3 linked regions of the Homo sapiens genome follow. The protein of the gene in region 2 purifies or fractionates together with the protein of the main gene of each other region. This does not show direct contact. Each region holds a gene or a part of one and is shown on either strand. Other genes may lie near its edges.

The links.
Region 1: the proteins of LYAR (region 2) and RSL1D1 purify together in Homo sapiens (co-immunoprecipitation; 2 studies listed by BioGRID and IntAct, with this or other methods). This does not show direct contact.
Region 3: the proteins of LYAR (region 2) and CHLSN purify together in Homo sapiens (co-immunoprecipitation; 2 studies listed by BioGRID and IntAct, with this or other methods). This does not show direct contact.

The regions. Positions count from the first base shown.
Region 1 is NC_000016.10:11,838,043-11,841,692, reverse strand, and holds part of RSL1D1 (ribosomal L1 domain-containing protein 1), read left to right. Parts: intron 1-1,707; coding exon 1,708-1,998; intron 1,999-3,579; coding exon 3,580-3,650. UniProt on the Homo sapiens protein: Regulates cellular senescence through inhibition of PTEN translation. Acts as a pro-apoptotic regulator in response to DNA damage.
Region 2 is NC_000004.12:4,283,573-4,287,222, forward strand, and holds part of LYAR (cell growth-regulating nucleolar protein), read right to left. Parts: intron 3,001-3,650; 5' UTR 2,947-3,000; intron 224-2,946; 5' UTR 171-223; coding exon 49-170; intron 1-48. UniProt on the Homo sapiens protein: Plays a role in the maintenance of the appropriate processing of 47S/45S pre-rRNA to 32S/30S pre-rRNAs and their subsequent processing to produce 18S and 28S rRNAs. Also acts at the level of transcription regulation.
Region 3 is NC_000007.14:1,124,688-1,128,337, reverse strand, and holds part of CHLSN (protein cholesin), read left to right. Parts: intron 1-951; 5' UTR 952-952; coding exon 953-1,081; intron 1,082-2,591; exon of another isoform or gene 2,592-2,684; intron 2,685-3,650. UniProt on the Homo sapiens protein: Hormone secreted from the intestine in response to cholesterol, where it acts to inhibit cholesterol synthesis in the liver and VLDL secretion,leading to a reduction in circulating cholesterol levels. Acts through binding to its receptor, GPR146.

The sequences.
Region 1 (3,650 bases), on a different chromosome or scaffold from region 2:
TAGTAGAATTTTAAATACTTACAGAATGAATAATGAAGGGTGTAAATTCAGTCACTAGGAGAGAAGTAGACCATCATCGCTGCCCGACTTTTCAGTTATCTTCTGGTTTTGTGGTGGTTGTGCTTTTGTCACTTTACATGAGGTAAAATGGGTATGCTTTTGTCACTTTACATGAGGTAGTTGATGTTAGTAATGCGCATTAAGATAGAAATATCTTGTATTTATTGATAAATTGGATTTTTTTTTTATTTTTGTTAGATCCAGTGCTTGCTGGGTTTTTTTAGAGAGACAGGGTCTCACTCTGTCCCCCAGGCTGGAGCACAGTGACGTGATCAAGGCTCACGGCAGCCTTGACCTCCTGAGCTCAAGCAATCCTGTTTCAGCCTCCCGAGTAGCTGGCACTGCAGGCATGCTTCACCATGCCCAGCTAATTTTTAAATTATTTTTTGTACACACATGGTCGCCCTGTTTCCCAGGCTGATCTTGAATTCTTGAGCTCAAGCGATCCGCCTGCCTTGGGCTCCCAAAGTGCTGGGATTACAGGCATGAGCTACTATGCCTGGCCTGGATTAACTGGCTTTTGAGGGGGCCTGAGTTAAGTTCCTACCACATATTTCCGGTCATAGAAACATCACCATACTTCTAAATAAAGACCAAAACATTTAAAATATTAAACATTGAAATAAATGTGAGCTATATATACATTTGAAACAGTAATAAAAGGAATTGACATAATTATTTACCCAGTTATTCCCATCCACGGTTGTAGGTGGCTGGAGTTTAATCCTGATAGCTCAGGGAAAAGGGTAACAGGCAAGAGCCAACCCTAGAAAAGGCGCTGTTTCATCACAGGACAAACTCATACACCTACATTCGTTGGGACTGGGACTGGGATAACTTCAACACACCAGTTCACCTAATGTGCACGTATTTGGATGTCGGAGGTTATGCTCACAGATACCTCCTGAGCTTGGTTTGTAGGTTTTCAGTATTACTCGTACTCTAGCAAAAGAAGCTTTCGGAAGGAGAGAAAATTTAATTTTTTGCTATTTGTTAGACTGATCTCCTAGTGTTTCTCTCTTTAGCCATGTTAATTGTGTCCAATGAATTTTTAATTTTGTTTTTGAGACAGAGTTTCACTCTGTCGCCCAGGCTGAAGTGCAGTGGCATGATCTCAGCTCACTACAACCCCCCGCCTTCCAGGTTCAAATGATTCTCTGTGCCTCACCCTCCTGAGTAGTTGGAACTACAGGCACGTATCACCATGCCCAGCTAATTTTTGTGGTTTTAATAGAGATGGGGTTTCACCATGTTTACCAGGCTGATCTCGAAGTCCTGACCTCAAGTGATCCTCCTGCCTCAGCCTCCCTGAGTGCTGTGATTACAGGCGTGAGCCACCGCGCCCAGCTGAGTATTATTCTTTACACTCTAAACCATACTGTGTTTCACAAAAGTCTCTTAACTGTATACTTTAGATAGTCAGATTCTGAAATGCCGGTATATAATTTACTGCATAAAATGCATGTTTGGCTGTGAGTCAAAAACTGCGGTTGAGGTTCCAGTGCTGGTTAGGGAGTTTGTTCTCTGTATAGATCGAGGTCCATTTAGGGGCTTATGGATAATCAAAACTGCACGTGGTACATCTATGCCGTTTGTTAACCAACAGAACTGTTCCTGCTAAAATGTTTGTATGGTGTTTTTTGGTAGGAGGCAAGGAGAAAACGAAGAGAAAGAAATTTTGAAAAACAAAAGGAGAGGAAGAAGAAGAGGCAGCAGGCTAGGAAGACTGCATCAGTTCTTAGTAAAGATGATGTGGCACCTGAAAGTGGTGATACTACAGTGAAGAAACCTGAATCAAAGAAGGAACAGACCCCAGAGCATGGGAAGAAAAAACGTGGCAGAGGAAAAGCCCAAGTTAAAGCAACAAATGAATCCGAAGACGAAATCCCACAGCTGGTACCAATAGGAAAGAAGACTCCAGCTAATGAAAAAGTAGAGGTATTGTTTTAATATTTACTGTTCATAATGGATTGGTTCAGTGGCTACTGTGTCAGGCAGGTACTGTGCTGAGCAATAAATGATGAAAAATACTAGAGTGAACCCAAAGAACTGTGAAGGTGGTTATCATATCATGATTTATTGTACCTTTTTTTTTTTTTTTTTTTTAGATGGGATCTTGCTATATTGCCCAGACCGGTCTTACACTCCGGGGGTCAAAACAGTCTTCCCACCTTGGCCTCCCAAAGTGCTGGGATTACAAGTGTGAGCCACCACACCTAGTCCCAACCGGTTGGCTTTTTTTTTTTTTTTTGCTTTGCTTTTTTTTGAAGATGGAGTCTCACTCTGTCACCCAGGCTAGAGTGCAGTGGCATGATCTCAGCTCACTGCAACCTCCGCCTCCCTGGTTCAAGCAATTCTCCTTCCTCAGCCTCCCGAGTAGCTGGGATTACAGGCGCGCACTACCATGCCCAGCTAATTTTTGTGTTTTTGGTAGAGACGGGGTTTTGCCATGTTGGCCAGGCTGGTCTTGAACTCCTGGCCTCAGGTGATCCGCCCGCCTTGTCCTCCCAAAGTGCTGGGATTACAGGCATGAACCACCGCACTCAGCCACCAGTTGGCTTTTACACAGAGAATCTGGGAACCCTTGCCCTACACCATGTGCCAGGGATGTGCAGCTACATTTGGAAGACTCAGGATTTGCTCCCATGTGTCTCTGCTGTGCTCCTCATGGTGCTTCCAGGATTCCCTCCCCTCAGTCATAGGGAAAGGTGGTTTTCCTCTGATTGGACCAGGAAGACCTCTGGGTCTTCACAGTTTTTTTTTGTTTTTTTTTTTTGAGACAAGGTCTCACTTTGTTGCCCAGGATGGAGTGCAGTGGCATGATCTCGGCTCACAGCAACCTCCACCTTTCGTGCCCAAGCAATTCTCGTGCCTCAGCCTCCTGAGTAGCTGGGATTACAGGTGTGTGCCAACATGCCTGGCTAATTTTTGTATTTTTAGTAGAGATGGGGTTTTGCCATGTTGGCCAGGCTACTCTTGAACTCCTGGCCTCAAGTAATCCACCTGCCTCAGCCTTCCATAGTGCTGGGATTACAGGCATGAGCCACCTCACCTATACCTCATTCTTAATAGTGGAATACAGCTTATTTCTGTCATCATACTGAGGTGTACCTTTTGGGGGTTAACTAATAAAAACAGTAACTTGGCCATGCGCTGAAAAACAGTAACTTGGCCGGGCACAGTGGCTCACGCCTGTAATCCTAGCACTTTGGGAGGCCGAGGCAGGTGGATCACCTGAGGTCAGGAGTTCGAGACCAGCCTGGCTAACATGGTGAAACCCTGTTTCTACTAAAAATACAAAAAATGAGCCGGGCGTGGTGGCACACACCTATAATACCAGCTACTCGGGAGGCAGAGGTTGCAGTGAACTGAGATTGTGCCATTGCACTCTAGCATGGGCAGCAAGAGCGAAACTCAGTCTGAAAAATAAATAAATACAAATAAAAACAGTAACTCCTGGAGTTAGAGTGTCAGGTTTTGTGGCTTTTTCTATATTAAACTTACTTTTTTTTTTCTTAGATTCAAAAACATGCCACAGGAAAGAAGTCTCCAGCAAAGAGTCCTAATCCCAGCACACCTCGTGGGAAGAA
Region 2 (3,650 bases):
AACTGATCTGGATTTACTATGGATCTACATGAATTCTGTGAAGCTTACCAGAAATCTTTACCGCAGTCAATGCAAGAAAGGCATTCACAGTTTCTGCAAACAGACACATGCTTTTCCACTTGTATTTTCTTCACTGATTCACCACATGCATTGCATGTAAAAAATACCATTTTTAGGTAAATGGCTAAATATTCTCTATCCAAGACAGGTTTTAAGTCTTGTCCTAAGGAAAAAAAGACAATTATAATTATAAACTGAAACTTCTCATTTCAATAAATGGCTCATGCCCCTAACTTTTCAACCATAATTTCACATGAAAATAACAGAGTCAAAGTTGATTAGCAATCTACATAAAATTCCACCATTCATATAAGTAAAACTAACATTAACAATGAGAATGGCTAACATTTATTGTGTCCTTACCACGTGCCAGGCACTATTCTAGAGGCTTTACATTTATTCACTTATTCAATCCCCGCAGTAACCCTATGAGGGAAGGACTATTATTGTTCAAAATTTATATGAGGTAACTGAGACACAGAGATTACATAACTTGCCCAAGGATACACGGTTAACAGAACCAGGATTTAAACCTGGCAGATTGGCTCTCAAGATGAAGAGCTTTGAGGGTGTTAAATCTTACTTTCCATAATACCTTAAACTCTCTCTCTGTATATGAAACTTATAGAAGGCATTGCAATTTAGGTGTACACTACAAACTATTTCAGGTCCTCAAATATACTAAGAACACAGCAAGAGGAAAACTGAGTGAAGTTTAGAAAGTGAAGAAGAGGCAATTCTATGGGCACAATTTCTATGGCACTAAAAGCATTCATATCAATATTACTATATATCTACAAAGGTTAAAATGAGGACATGCGCCTCAGCTGTAATGGACAGGGGCCTTCTTCATGTGGCAGCTTGTCAGACAAGTCAGAAAGAAACGGAACCAAGTCCAGGTGTCCCAACTGCTGGGTGCTGAATTACTGGAGTTCACAAACCCAGGTGTCCCGAGCACTGCCCCAAAAAGAAGTATGTCTGCACACGCACATAAACATCATTGTAAAATTTCACAGAAATGCTACCGTGCTCAGGAAAACACAAATTCGTCTAGAAGTGTTAGAGAAGTCACAGTAATTTTCCATACTTACATAATTTTTAATCACTAGATTTTAAAACAGCATTGTTGTTTTACATTATAAGTTTTACAGCAAAAATACTGAGAACTGTTTAACCCAGAGCTTTCTTCCTCATTAGGAAAATAAAGGTGAGGGTCAAGTAAACCGATGCAATTTACTTCAGGGTAGGACTTCATCCAACAAGCTTTCAGTACAAATGATCTACCCTTGGTTTGCAGAGAATTCCCATGCATGAAATCACCGTTGCTCCTCCACCAGCATGTTTTGGATCACTGCCAGTGAGGCCACACCCAAGCAACGACCAAGGTTATTCATGTCCATTCAGCCTTGAATGGAAATGTACATCCTGGCTGCATCTCCAGGGTTCACAAAGGTCCAGCTGGTCTCTTGTGGAGGCCTCTTGCCCTGTGGGACACTATCAGACATCAGCTCAGCTTCTACGCTACATACAAACCACAGACCCCTGATTCCGCGGTCCCAGGCCCCGCTCCTCAGCTCACTATCAGTGTATGTTAGTAAACGGACAGCATGTGGTCAGCTACAACCTAGCACCAAATCCTCAGGAAGGAAAACATGACTACCCTCGATGTGCTGCAGCAACTGTCATCTTCTCATCTGCTTACTGTAAAGATGTGTGATATTGTCAAGCTCCTGGGAGCTGGAATCACGTTTCCCACAACCCAGCTCCCTCAAAGCTTACCATTCTAAAAAAAGGCAGAGGGATGATCAACATGTCAGGCAACAAGAGCAGCTATCCTGCCTGACAAGGGAGAACAAAGGCTGGAATAAGAGCCAACATCACATTCTCAAAGAGCATGGAGGTGCACTTTGGTGTAAGAGCAGGAATAACTTATTAGTCACCAAGAAATAGATTGTCATCACAGGCACAAGGTGAAAGCAGCCGTGATATGCCAAATTATCTGCTGAAAAACGTTAAAGCACTTTTCTAATAAGATACAACAACAAAAAACAGTCTCTGAAACTTAGATACGGCTTAGAGCTTGCCAACCTCTGTTGCTGAGGACAATTCTATTTCTGGATGGAGTGGGAGATGGGAGGAAGAAAGGTTTCGACAAGGCTTAAGAGTGAATTGAGAGATTCCTGTCCCAGCAGGAATTAAAGGCCTAGGAAGGAAGCTGGAAACAAAATATATTGACTGAAAGAAGCAGTGAAAGCAGTGATGTTGACAAAAAGATACTCAAGAGTAACTGTGCCAAACATTCTATCTCTCTGGAGATCGGCTACACACTACAGTGTAATTAAATATCAATTCAGAAGGTGATTAGAATCTGGTTACATGTCCAGCTAAAAAATAACTCTCACATCATTTTCATTTGGTCTTTACTTGTTTAAGGCCAAATGGGTGGATTGCACAGGAAGTCAGAACTGTCTCTTCCTGCCTTCCTCCGGATTTTTACACTTGCCATGAAATGGGAACAGCTCTGTGTCCACTTGCTTGGCTAATGAGCTAATGTCTGTAAGGAGCTTACCTCTCCTTTATTCAGAGCCTGGAGGACAGTCCAGCACCTTGATTACACCTCAAACCCAACCTAGCCCCAGGCGAAAATACCTGTAATTTATGCCATAAACACTTGCTTGGGCTTCAAAGAAAAGCTCAAAACCATCAGAAGCTTCAAAGTCAGCCTAACTGCACAGCAGACAGGGTGTCCCAGGTCTTAGTGCAGGCTTAATATTCGTAAGCGTAAATGCTACAAACTTACAAAAAGCCGTCAGGTGGAAATTCAGTCCCTCTAATGGAAGACAGCAAACATTGCCTAAAACAAAAATGTAAATACTACAAACTTACAAAAAGCCGTCATGTAGAAATTCAGTCACTCCAATGGAAGACAGCAAACATTGCCTAAAACAAAAAAGTAAAACGGTATTGTTCAAATTCCACAAGACTAGATAAGCATGAAGGAAATTTAATTAAACTTTTTTTTTTTTTTTTTGAGAAAGGAGTCTCGCTTTGTCGCCCAGGCTGGAGTGCAGTGGTGCATTCTTGGCTCACTGCAAGCTCCGCCTCCCGGGTTCATGCCATTCTCTTGCCTCAGCCTCCCGAGTAGCTGGGATTACAGGCATCCGCCACCACGCCCAGCTTATTTTTTGTATTTTTTAGTAGAGATAGATGGGGTTTCACCGTGTTAGCCAGGATGGTCTCAATCTCCTGACCTCGTGATCCGCCTGCCTCGGCCTCCCAAAGTGCTGGGATTACAGGCGTGAGCCACCGCGCCCGGCCTTAATTAAATTTTAAATGATGTTTTGGCAAGTTTGGATCATTTATGCTTCTGAAATTATGAAAGCTTAAAACTGCATTAAGATTTTGAGGACACCCAGTCTGCCGGGCTCAGATGTGACAGATTTCAACATCTAGCCCTAAGTGTAAAAAGACAGCAGTTTTTTCATGGGGCTGGATCTAAATAGAGTCCTCTTTTCCTTCCCTGGCTCCCCAACTCCCTCTGCCCAATGTCCAGTCCCAGCGCAGCCAGAGAGATTCTACATGCTTTCCTT
Region 3 (3,650 bases), on a different chromosome or scaffold from region 2:
CACTCCAGCCCGGGTGACGGTGGGATGAGCCGAGATTGTGCCACTGCACTCCAGCCCGGGTGACGGTGGGATGAGCCGAGATGGCGCCACTGCACTCCAGCCCGGGTGACGGTGAGATGAGCCGAGATGGCGCCACTGCACTCCAGCCCGGGTGACGGTGGGATGAGCCGAGATGGCGCCACTGCACTCCAGCCCGGGTGACGGTGGGATGAGCCGAGATCGCGCCACTGCACTCCAGCCCGGGTGACGGTGAGATGAGCCGAGATCGCGCCACTGCACTCCAGCCCGGGTGACGGTGGGATGAGCCGAGATCGTGCCACTGCACTCCAGCCCGGGTGACGGTGGGATGAGCCGAGATCGTGCCACTGCACTCCAGCCCGGGTGACAGGGTGGGATGAGCCGAGATGGCGCCACTGCACTCCAGCCCGGGTGACGGTGGGATGAGCCGAGATCGTGCCACTGCACTCCAGCCCGGGTGACGGTGGGATGAGCCGAGATTGTGCCACTGCACTCCAGCCCGGGTGACGGTGGGATCAGCCGAGATCGTGCCACTGCACTCCAGCCTGGGTGACGGTGAGATGAGCTGAGATCGCGCCACTGCACTCCAGCCCGGGTGACGGTGGGATCAGCCGAGATTGTGCCACTGCACTCCAGCCCGGGTGACGGTGGGATGAGCCGAGATTGTGCCACTGCACTCCAGCCTGGGTGACAGAGTGAGGCCCTGACTCAAAAAAAAAAAAGACAGAAAGGAAATATACCAAAATGTGTCAAGTTGGTTGTCCATAGGTTATGAAATGTGGGAGTTTGAGTTTATTTTAACTTTTATATGTTTTCCATAATACTCTTTTTTTTTTTTAATGGGAGAGTGCCCTACCTCTTTTTATTTAAAAATCTTACATGAGTTAAGCCTTTCATTTCCTTGTCTTCAGCAATTTACTTTCTCTGTTGCAGGATGGCAAAACAGAAGAGAAAAGTTCCTGAAGTGACAGAGAAAAAGAACAAAAAGCTGAAGAAGGCGTCAGCAGAGGGGCCACTGCTGGGCCCTGAGGCTGCACCAAGTGGCGAAGGAGCCGGCTCCAAGGTAAGGCCGCCTGTGCTTCACTGGCCCTGCCCTCTGGGATCCACCTGTTATCTGATCTGGAGGGAGAGGGGGTGGCTCAGCCTGCTGGTCTCTGTGGAGCAGAGCCTGGAACAGGTGCGGAGGCGTGGTGGGGCTTGGTGCCTTCCAGAAGCGATTGTAGGACAAAGAAGGATTTTAGTAAATTTTGAGTTGGAACCCTATGACTGCCTTTCTTAGCTGCCAGGAAACTGCTGTTTTGGGTGCTGTGTTGTGTAGGGGACTTGGTGGCGGCATGCAGGATGGTGAGGGGCCTGCAGCAGGCCTTCGGTTGGGCCCTGGGAAGGTGCGAGGGGCGGCTCCTCACCTGGGCATGTGCAGAGGCGTGTCCTGAAAGCCTGTGTTTAAAAATGCACATCTAGAAATGTTCGTGTCGAATAACACGATTATTGTCCGTTTGAAAATCACCTATTGGTATCACTTTCTAAACGGTGTGCAGCGGGTTATGAATAACGTTGAGATTTGAGTATCCACCACCATTCACTTGAAAAGACACGTGAGCCATCTTCTCCTAAAGTGATGCATTTTTATTCTTCGTTTTCTTGAGACACAGTCTCTGTCGCCCAGGCTGGAGTGCAGTGGTGGGATCTCAGCTCAGTGCAACCTCCATCTCCTGGGTTCCAGCGATTTTCCTGCCTCGGCCCCACAGGTAGCCAAGACTGCAGGTGCACACCACCACGCCCGACTAGTTTTTTGTATATTTGATAGAGACCGGGTTTCACCATGTTGGCCAGGCTGGTCTTGAAACTTCCGACCTCAAGTGATCCACCCACCTCGGCCTCCCAATATGCTGGAATTACAGGTGTGAGCCACCGCACCTGGCCTGCATTTTTATTCTTTTTTTTTTTTTTTTTTTTTTTTGAGACAGAGTCTCGCTCTGTCACCCAGGCTGGAGTGCAGTGGCGCCATCTTGGCTCACTGCCAGCTCCGCCTCCCAGGTTCATGCACTCTCCTGTCTCAGCCTCCTGAGTAGCTGGGACTACAGGCGCCTACCACCACGCCCAGCTAATTTTTTGTATTTTTTAGTAGAGACGGGGTTTCACCATGTTAGCTGGGATGGTCTCGACCTCCTGACCTCGTGATCCACCTGCCTCGGCCTCCCAAGTGCTGGGATTACAGGTGTGAGCCACTGCTCCAGGCCCTGCATTTTTATTCTTGAAAGTATTTTATTATGTACTGTATCATGTTTATCTTCCACAAAAAGATGCATATACATTTAAATTTGAAAATATAAAAAATTTTTTGACCCACCAAGTTCTGAGTGTTAAAATTTCTCTTCTGCATTGAGCTGTGTTTACCATTAGGAGCATGCAGTTGATCGAAACAGCATAATAGATTAGGAATTTTCACAAATGATTCTACATAAAGTGAAATCTGACGACGCGCGCGTCACATCGTGGTAAGAGCATTGTCACCCCGTGTTACCACCCCGTGGAAGGGCAGGGCTTTCCGTGTCTGCGGATGGCACACTCACCTGTGGATCCGCGCTGTCATTGCTCGAGAGAAAGCGGGTTTCCACAGGCTTTGTTCCTGTTCTCATGTCAGATTTCAGTGCTGAGCGCCCTTGCTGACATAGATGAGTAAATGGGAACAAGAGTAGTGTTGTAGCTTTGTTGCTTAAGTCCTTAAACTTTGAGACCATTCTGTGGTTTGGGCACATATTTTCAGGATTTATTTTAAAGCTCTATCAGTAAGTGACAGGTGGACTGGGTCCCTGAGTTGTGCAGGGGCCCGGTGCTGGCTTGTTACATTTGTTCACTTCCCCAGGGTGACACCAGGGTTCAAGCTTTGCCATTGATTAGTGCTGGAGGTCTCGTGCCTGGGGCAGTGTGCCATTGTGAGATGTGGGGTGGCAGGTGGCCCTGTTTTTCATGAAATGAGAAAATGGCCGCTGTGCAAAGGGAGGTGGAAAGGGGGAGCCCACGTGGGCCCTTCAAAGCGGCTTCCAGCAGGAGGTGGGCACAGCCAGTGCTTGGAGGGGTCCCTGGGCTACCCAGCCACGGATGCCCGGGACGGTGGAGTGTGCCTGGTTGCTGGGTGTGGCCCAGCTCACTCTGGGATCCTGTCCAATGAGGCAGTGCTGAGCTCTCGGAAGGTGGTGTGAAATCACGTCCACCACGTCTGTGGCTGCAGGCGGCTCAGCAGGCGTGGGTGGAGGGGAGAAGCTGGGGTGTGTGCCTAGAGGAGCTCCTGGCTGTCTCAGAGGGTCGTCTCTCACTGCCACCCCCCGGGCGAGGGAAGCCAGACAGCACCCCAAGCACAGCCAGACAGCTTGTCCTGGGCTCTCTAGCAGAACACCCCAAGGTCACCCGGAGGCTGAGGCCTGGCAGGTGCAGAGGTCCTGCGGCTCCCGCGCAGCGGGTCAGCAGGCAGCCCCGCGTTCCACCTGAGCCTCACCTTGAATTTCGGCTCCTCCTCCGCAGGCTGTTGAATTCCTGTGTCTCCCAGGCTGACTGCCTCTTTTTTTTTTTTTTTGTGCTTTTTTAAAATTTTTTTTATTTTTTATTATTATACTTTAAGTTTTAGGGTACAT